2 separate regions of the Homo sapiens genome follow, and region 1 is linked to region 2. Evidence: fine-mapped expression QTL. A gene starts in region 2. The other region holds a variant in brackets. All regions are shown on one strand. Distances are from middle to middle. Region 1 has its middle 11 kb from the start of PLIN3. Region 2 holds the start of UHRF1 (ubiquitin like with PHD and ring finger domains 1).

What was found. PIP is the estimated chance that this variant, and not a neighbour inherited with it, causes the effect. A credible set is the group of variants that fine-mapping cannot tell apart.
Region 1: its variant is the best candidate, but not a certain one, in a credible set for the expression of UHRF1 in tibial nerve (GTEx, PIP 0.83).

Annotation. Positions count from the first base shown.
Region 1 is chr19:4,876,248-4,880,628 of GRCh38, forward strand. No RefSeq gene overlaps it. Among named protein-coding and RNA genes, the nearest start is that of PLIN3, 11 kb to the left of the region's middle. RefSeq lists enhancers at 1,304-2,187, 2,188-3,069 and a silencer at 2,482-2,661. The variant G/A (reference allele first, on the strand shown) is at 2,349.
Region 2 is chr19:4,907,240-4,911,602 of GRCh38, forward strand. It overlaps UHRF1 (ubiquitin like with PHD and ring finger domains 1), which reads left to right and starts at 2,262. Exons shown (of 17, transcript NM_001048201.3): 1 at 2,262-2,416; 2 at 3,637-3,799. The coding sequence starts at 3,647. It also overlaps a transcript of ARRDC5 not described here. RefSeq lists an enhancer at 1,295-2,201 and silencers at 2,021-2,100, 2,601-3,120.

The sequences.
Region 1 (4,381 bases), 31 kb before region 2:
ACTACAGACGCCCACCATGCCCGGCTAATTTTTTTTTGTATTTTTAGTAGAGATGGGGTTTCACCGTGTTAGCCAGGATGGTCTCGATCTCCTGACCTCATGATCTGCCTGCCTCGGCCTCCCAAAGTGTTGGGATTACAGGTGTGAGCCACTGCGCCCGGCCTTTGTTTTTCTTTTGAGACAGGGTCTTGCTCTGCTGCTCAGGCTGGAGTGCAGTGGTACAATCAGGGCTCACTGCAGCCTCGACATCCTGGACCTAAGCGATCCTCTTACCTCAGCCTCCCAAGTAGCTGGGAGTACAGGTGCATGCCACCACATCGGGCTAATTTTTGTATTTTTCATACAGGTGGGGGTCCCACCATGTTGCCCAGGCTGGTCTTAAACTCCTGGGCTCAAGTAATCCTCCCACCTTGGCCTCCCAAAGTGCTGGGATTACTAGTGTGAGCCACCACGCCTGGCCATGTGAATAATTTTTAGCGTAAGTATGTTCCAAATTATTTTGAGACATACTTATGCTAAACATTTTTCATTTAATGGAGTTCAGTGGCTCACGCCTATAATCCCGGTGCTTTCGGAGACAGAGGCAGGAAGATTGCTTGAGCCCAGGAGGTCAGGGCTGCCGTGAACTATGATGGCACCACTGTACTCCAGCCTGGGTGACAGAGCAAGACCTTGTCTCAAAATAATAATAATAATAATAATAATTCATTTTGGCCGGGCACAGTGGCTCACACCTGTAATCTCAGCATTTTGGGAGGCTGAGGTGGGCAGATCACTTGAGGTCAGGAGTTGGAGACCAGCCTTGCCAACATGGTGAAACCCCGTCTCTACTAAAAATACAAAAATCAGCTGGGTGTGGTGGCGTACGTTTGTAATCCCGGCTACTTCGGAGGCTGAGGCAGGAGAATCCCTTGAACCTGGGAGGCAGAGGTTCCTGTCAGCCAAGATCGCACCACCGCACTCCAGCCTGGGTGACAGAGGGAGAATCTGTCTCAAAAAATAATAATAATGGCCGGGTGCGACGGCTCACACCTGTCATCCCAGTACTTTGGGAGGCCGAGGGGGTGGAGTGGATCACCTGAGGTCAGGAGTTTGAGACCAGCCTGGCCAACATGGTGAAACCCCGTCTCTACTAAAAATACAAAAAATTAGCCGGATGTGGTGACATGTGCCTGTAATCTCTGCTGCTCAGGAAACTGAGGCAGGAGACTCACTTGAACCCAGGAGGCGGAGGTTGCAGTGAGCCAAGATCACGCCATTGCACTCCATCCTGGGCAACAAAAGCAAAACTCCGTCTCAAAATAAAAACAAAAACAAATACTAATAATAACAACAACAATAATTCGTTTAACTGCCTGTCTTGTAATTAACCTGGCAACTCAGCCAGACGTTGTCCACGTTGCCCCCCGCCACATTGTGGCTCCAGCGACCGGGTGGACACCTGACCAGCTGTGGCCCAACGGTGAGAAGGCAGAGGATTTTGTCTGGCAATTATTTGGGCTCGCTGCAGGAAGCCAGGGGTCTTTTAACATGCAGGCCCTGGCCTGTCCCCACCCCCAGGCCCTCATGGCGCCAGCTGCCCGCTGCCCCCTGCAAGGCGCTGGCGGGCGTGGGGGAGGGGAGCAGCTCTGAGACCCACTGTCCCCTCTCCTAGGCCAGGAGTGTCCTACTGGCTCGCATGCCCATCCGTGGAATGCCCGAGGGGACCCCGGGCCAGGCCTCCACCTGGCCATTGTCTCCTGCACCCTCCGTCCCTGGTGGCCCGTCCGGCTCTGAGCCAGACATTTACGACTTCTTGGGCCTCCCACAAGTCCTGCAGGCAGGCAGATTCCTTGTCCATGTCCGGGAAGGATGGAGGCCTGGGGCAGCTGCCTGGGAATCCGATCCCACGGGCCCCTGCAACTCCATTCCTTGGGGCCGCAGCCACCCCCACAGCCAATCCCTCCCTGGAGAACCGTGTCCAGGATGGCCAGGCCTGGCGGCTCTGGGCACGGCCCTCCCAGTGCCAGCTGCCAGGATGTGCCAGCCGCATTGGCGGGGAGAGAACAGGCCGTTCTTGGCTCTCCCGGCTGCCTCTTTGTTCCCTGGGCGGAGGTGGGGGGCTGTTGTCCTGGCAACCACCCCCTTTTCCCCAACACAGTCACACGAGGTGAAAACTGGGGGCGCCTCAGGCCTGGGGGTTCAGGTCAGGGAGGGTCCCCGGTCACCTAAGGTGGCCGAGGATCTCCCTCCTCCCCGCCAGCCCGGCTTCCTTGGAGTTCATATTTCCCGGACGACGAGGGAGGCCGGGTCACCCCCCGCACTTTTGGGGATTGGAATGTCGGAGGTGGTGGCAACAGGGGGTGGAC[G/A]TTCCCAGCGGGGCAGGCACCGTGGTGGTGGCAGCTGCTAGTCCCCTGCCTGTCCCACGTCCCCCAAGTGGGAGGCCGCAGCTGGTGTGGGTGACTTTGGTTCCCGGGGCGGGGGAGGGTTATTTTGGGAGTAGGGACCAGGGAGAATGAGAGGCCCCTCCACGGGGGCAGGAAGTGGGGCGGCCCCAGCTGCATTCTCCCGTTGGCCCACCTGGCGTGGCGGGTACTGCTGCCGCTGCACAGGAAGTGTCCCCAACGCCCGCCTGTGTGGTCCACTGAGTCTAGGGCCTGGAAATGGGAGGCAGCTGGCAAGGAGGGGGCAGGGACCCGCTGGGGGTGCTGTACAGCAGATCAGAATCTTCCAGAAGAGTCCCGCTGGGGTAATGGTGGTGCCTATGGAGTGAGTGGTGACTTTGGTTCAGGCCATTTATATGCATTGGCTGGTTTAATCCAGTGTGTTCCGGAGGAAGATGCTAGGAATAAATCCCCCTTTTACACATGGGGAAACTGAGGCTCAGAAACAGAAGCGACTGGCCCAAAGTCATTCAGCAAATAAACAGCCGAGGCCAGGCGCGGTGGCTCAGACGCCTGTAATCCCAGCACTTCAGGAGGCCAAGGCGGGTGAATCACCTGAGGTCAGGAGTGTGAGACCAGCCTGGACCACACGGTGAAACCCTGTCTCTACTAAAAATATAAAAATCAGCCAGGTGTGGTGGCGGGTGCCTGTAATCCCAGCACTTCAGGAGGCTGAGGCCGGTGAATCACCTGAGGTCAGGGGTGTGAGACCAGCCTGGACAACACGGTGAAACCATGTATCTACTAAAAATACAAAAATCAGCCAGGTGTGGTGGCGGGTGCCTGTAATCCCAGCTACTTGGGAGGCCGAGGCATGAGAATTGCTTGAACCCAGGGCAGGGGTGGAGGTTGCGGTGAGCCAAGATGGCGCCACTGCATTCCAGCCTTGGCAAGACAGCAAGACTCTGTCCCAAAACAACAACAATAACAACAACAACACCAACAACAAAACAGCAGAGGCCGGGCGCCATGGCTCATGCTTATAATCCCAGCACTTTGGGAAGCTGAGGTGGGCAGATCGTTTGAGCCCAGGAGCTTGAGGTTGCAGTGAGCTATGATCGCGCCACTGCACTCCAGCCTGAGACTGGAGCGTGACTCCAACTCAAAACAAAATAATAATAATAATAATAATTAATAAACATCAGAAGTGGGATTCTCATGCATAGCATTTACTATCAGATATATTAACTCCACAGAGGCCTCCAAGTATATACTGTACAGTGTAGCTCTCAACCAGGGGTGAGTCTGTCCTTCAGGGCCCATGGGGTGATGTCTGGGGACATTTGTGGTTGTCATGACTGGGGGTTGCTCCTGATATGGAGGGGGTGGGGGCCGGGGATGCTGCTCAGCACTCTTCAGTACCCAGGATGGCCTTGCCGCAGAGAAGGAACCCACCCCTCATGTACAGTTATGCGCGGTGGCTCACGCCTGTAATCCCAGCACTTTGGGAGGCCGAGGCAGGCAGATCACTTGAGGTCAGGAGTTTGAGACCAGCCTGGCCAATATGGCGAAACCCTGTCTCTACTAAAAATATAAAAATTAGCCAGCCGTGGTGGCACGCGCCTGTAATCCCAGCCACTCAGGAGACCGAGCCAGGAGAATCGCTTGAACCTGGGAGATGGAGGTTGCAGTGAGCCGAGATCACACAACTGCACTCCACCCTTGTCGACAGAGTGAGACTCTGTCTCAAAAATACATACATACTATACATACATACATACATACATACATACATACATACATACATACATTTCCCATCCTGGGGTCGTTCATATCAGCCTAACTGTCAGAGTTTAGGCAAGCAGTGAGTATTCACAGTGGTTCACATCACCGGTTTGGTTGAACTGGTTTTGAGTCCTGGCTCTGCAGTGAGTTTGCTGTGTGACCTTGGGCAAATCAATGAACCTCTCTGATCCTCAGTTCCTGGGCATTGGTAGTGGTATCTTCCTCAGGGTTGC
Region 2 (4,363 bases):
GCTGGGATTATAGGCACACACCACCCTGCCCAGCTAATTTTTTTTTTTGAGACACAGTCTCGCTCTGTTGTCCAGGCTGAAGTGCAGTGGCACGATCTCTGCTCACTGGAACCTCCGCTTCCCAGGTTCAAGCAATTCTCTGCCTCAGCTTCCCGAGTAGCTGGGATTACAGGCGCCGGCCACCACACCTGGCTAATTTTTGTATTTTTAGTAGAGATGGGGTTTCACCATGTTGACCAGGCTAGTCTGGCGACTCCTGACCTCCAGTTATCTGCCTGCCTCGGCCTCCCAAAGTACTGGGATTACACGTGTGAGCCACCACGCCCGGCCCACACATTTATCATCTTACAGTTTGGGAGGTCAGAAGTCTGAAATAAATTTTAGGGGCAGGGCGGGTTCTAGGAGTCTTTCTTGCTTTTTCTAGCCACCAGAGGCTGCCCATCTTCCTTGCCTCTTGGCCTGATCTTTTTTTTTTTTTTTTTTTTTTTTTGAGACTGAGTTTTGCTTTTGTTGCCCAGGCTGGAGTGCAATGGCGCGATCTTGGCTCACCACAACCTCTGCCTCCTGGGTTCAAGCGATTCTCCTGCCTCAGCCTCCCGAGTAGCTGGGATTACAGACATGTGCCACCACGCCAGGCTAATTTTGTGTTTTTAGTAGAAACGGGGTTTCTCCATGTTAGTCAGGCTGGTCTCGAACTCCTGACCTCAGGTGATCTGCCTGCCTCGGCCTCCCAAAGTGCTGGGATTACAGGTGTGAGCCAACGCGCCCGGCCCTTGGCCTGATCATTGTAAAGCCTGCTTCCACTTTCCCATCTCCTTTGACTTTGACCTTTTGTATCCCTTTTTCACTTATTAGGACCTTTTAAGGACATTGTGCCCACCTGGATCACCCAGGAGACGCTCCCCAACTCAAAATCATTAACTGAATCACACCTGCAAAGTTGCAAAGTCCTTTTAGCTGTGTAAGGCACTGTATTCACAGATCCTGGGGGCGAGGACGTGGGGGTCTAGAGACGCATATCTTCGGGGGCCATGATCTGTCTCCTATATTAGGGACATAGCAGAAGTCCCACTGACCAGATAGAGGAGACTTAATAGAGTGACGAAGAAACTGTAAAAAGCTAAGTGGGAACTCAACATTTTTCTGCTCACAGCTCTCAAGGGAAAGACCAAAGTCCTCCCCGGTGGCCTTCAAGGTATTATATATCACCCCTCTGACCTCAACTCCCCCTCCCCTTTGCTCAGTGGGCCCCAACCACACCAGCCCCTTCCTGCTCCCTGGACACCTCTAAGCCTTTTCCGGCCTCTGGGTTTGACTTTCCCTCCTAGACCCATCTGTCCTTGGAGTCTCATCTCCGATTCCAGCTCAAATGTCATCTTCTCTGAGAGGCCCACCGCAGTGGCCCCAGTGAGAGAGTATCCTCTCTCCCCGCCTCCCACCACATGGCTGCTGGTCACTCTCCTATAAGGAATCATCTGAAATTATCTGCTTTAGTTATTCATTTCTTGCCTGTCTCCCCCAGATAGGAATTTTCCCTCCCTGAGACCACCAACTGGGTCTGCCATGTACACCGCTGGGTTCTGCAGCTCTGAGCAACCTGTCCGGCTGCTTTGTAGGTGCCCAGCACAGGTCACTCCTGTGCCCGCCAGGACTGGTCAGAGTGGAACAGACAGGGCGGAGGGGGCAGGGCAGCCCTGCCCGCCTGGACAGCCTGGAGAAGGCGGGAAAACGAGGCGGGAAAAGACAGCAAACAAGCCCTGCGGGTGGGTAGAGTGGGGAGCCCTGGCAGGCCCTGACGCCAGGCAGTGGGGCTTGGGGCGATCGGGCGAGCCATCAGGGTGCAGGTGGTCTCCTAGGGGCCCCCCACATTCCCTCGCAGTATTTACACATTGATTCCGGCCTTCTTAGACCTACTGGTCAATGCGTGCGAGTGGGGGGCTGCGAACGGACTTGGACTTAAGAGTTCAGGGGGTCTGTACCCTGGGGGTCCCCAAGGCTCCTGGGGTGTCCACGTGCGGGGGGTGACCAGGCCCTGCCACGCAGCCCCTTTGCACGCTGGGCGCGCCCAGCAGAGCGCGCAGGGCTGGGCGGAGCCGTGGCCCACTAGGCGGAGGCGCCGTGGACAGAGGCGGGGGCGCCCCCCACCCTCTTTCTCGCTTCCCGCCACTGCGTCGGCCAATCAGGAGGCAGGCGCCCGCCCCCGGCACGGCCTCCTGCGGCCCCGCAACTCCCAAATGCCGAGTTTTCGCGGGAAAAAAATCAGAGCAGCTGGCAGCGCGGCGGGCAGCGTTTGCCGAGCGGGCGCTCCGGGTCGCACGCAAGTCCGCGCGGGGTCCGGGCCACGCACGCGGTTTCATCGCCATCCCCAGCCGGGCCACGCGCGCAGGCAGACAAGCTGTTCGCGGCGACCGGAGAGGTGAGCGGGCGGGCCGGGTCGGGGTGCCAGCCCGGGCCGGGCGCACGGGGCTCGGGAACTTTGCAAAACTTTCCCGCGCGGCCAGCCCGGGCGCACGCATGTCCCGCACTCTGTCCCGGGATCCAGGGCCTCCCCTTCCACCTAACCCTCGGGAATCGTTCCCCGGCACACATCCGGCTGGAGCCGGGACCAGCGCTGCGTCCCCGGAGCCCGGCGGGGGGTCGAGCGCGCCGGGTGGGGGAGGGCCTGGCGAGCCGCCGGGGAGGATGTCAGGCTCCGCGCCTGCGCGCGGGGCGCCCCGCGATTCAATTGTCGCGCCCGAGCCCGATTTCGCGCGCCCTGAGTTCCCCGGGAGCATCTGGGCCAATGGGGAGCGAGCGGGGCGGGGCGGCCGGGTGCTGCGGAGCCAATAAGAGGCGGCTCAAGTGAAGGGGGGCGGGACTTGACGAGCGGGGGCCCCCTCTGTAGTCCCGGCGGCGGGGGTGGGCGTGGGCTCGCTGGCGCGACCCGCGCGGGCCAGTGGGAGTGCGGGAGGGACGCCGAGGGTCCAGGGTTTGGAGGGGCGCGAGCTGCCGGGGGTTGGAGGTCGAGGTGAGTCGCGGGGCGCGCGCGCTCGCGGGTGGCCGGGACGGGGCGGCCGGTTACCATGGCCACCGCGGGGCGGGCCCGGTCGCGCACGCGCGCGGGGGGGGCCGGCAAGGAGGGGGGGCGTGGGCACCGAGGGGTCCCGGGGTCCGCGGATCTCGGGTGGGGTTTTTCCCTCTCAGTGGCACTTGGTTGAGTTCCCCCGGGACTTCTGAAGTTCCGGCCCGCGCTGGACTTCTGGGATTCCCTCTTCCGTAAATAGGAATCCGAGGAATGAATGAATCAATGAATGAATGAATAAACGAACCAACTCGGCCACTTGGCCCGGGCCTCCTTTCTCCTCTGGTCGTGGGGAAGGAGGGATGGGTTGGACCTTCTGCTTTTCTTTCAATTCCCTCTTTTCATTCTCCTTCCTCCTCAATCTTCAACACTTGGCTAGTCGTTAATGCCTTAAGTGCTTAATTTGTTGTGTCTGGTCCTGGCCAGGGTCTGGCTGTACAGGAGGACTGGAAGGGCATCCTGGGAGTTTCCTGGTGTCCACAGGCCGGACAAAAGCAACCCCGACTCCTTAGAGCATGGCATGGCTCAGAGGTGCTGGTAAAACTGATGGGGGTTTTTGCTGTCCCTCCCCTCAGCGCCGACACCATGTGGATCCAGGTTCGGACCATGGACGGGAGGCAGACCCACACGGTGGACTCGCTGTCCAGGCTGACCAAGGTGGAGGAGCTGAGGCGGAAGATCCAGGAGCTGTTCCACGTGGAGCCAGGCCTGCAGAGGCTGTTCTACAGGGGCAAACAGGTACACCCGCCGCCAGCACCTTTGTTCTATGCCTGGTCCAGGCCTCGCGCCTCTGCAGCCACCAGCCGATACTTTCTCCCTCCCACCTCCCCCCCCAACAACCTCGTCCGGTCCCACTTCATCTCTCCCGGAAGGAGAAGTCCACAGAAACCTCAAATGCCTGCGAGAGGAAGGAACAAAGGGAGGACTCACAGATTGACACGCTGGGCTGGCGGCTGGCCCTCGAATCTATAGGGTCTGGGCTTTTAAACTTCTTTTTTCAAAGCTCCGCCTCAAAATAATGGCTAGAGAAAGAAGTTTTGGAGGTGGCCGATGGAAGGCTGAGGAATTTTCGAGAAAGGGCCCAGGACCATCTGGTAGCTAGGACGGAGGGGACCAGGTTTTCTTTTTTAAACATCCACCACCAATTGCTCTCAGCCTGTACCGGTTAAGCATCAGACCCTGCGAGTGTTTGTTTCTAAAAATTTGGATTAGCTTATTCAGAGTCTGGAGATGGCGCTTGCTAATCAGGAATTTCCGCCACCCTGAGCCTGCTGTGCTGCGGCTGCTGCTGACCTGGGGCGT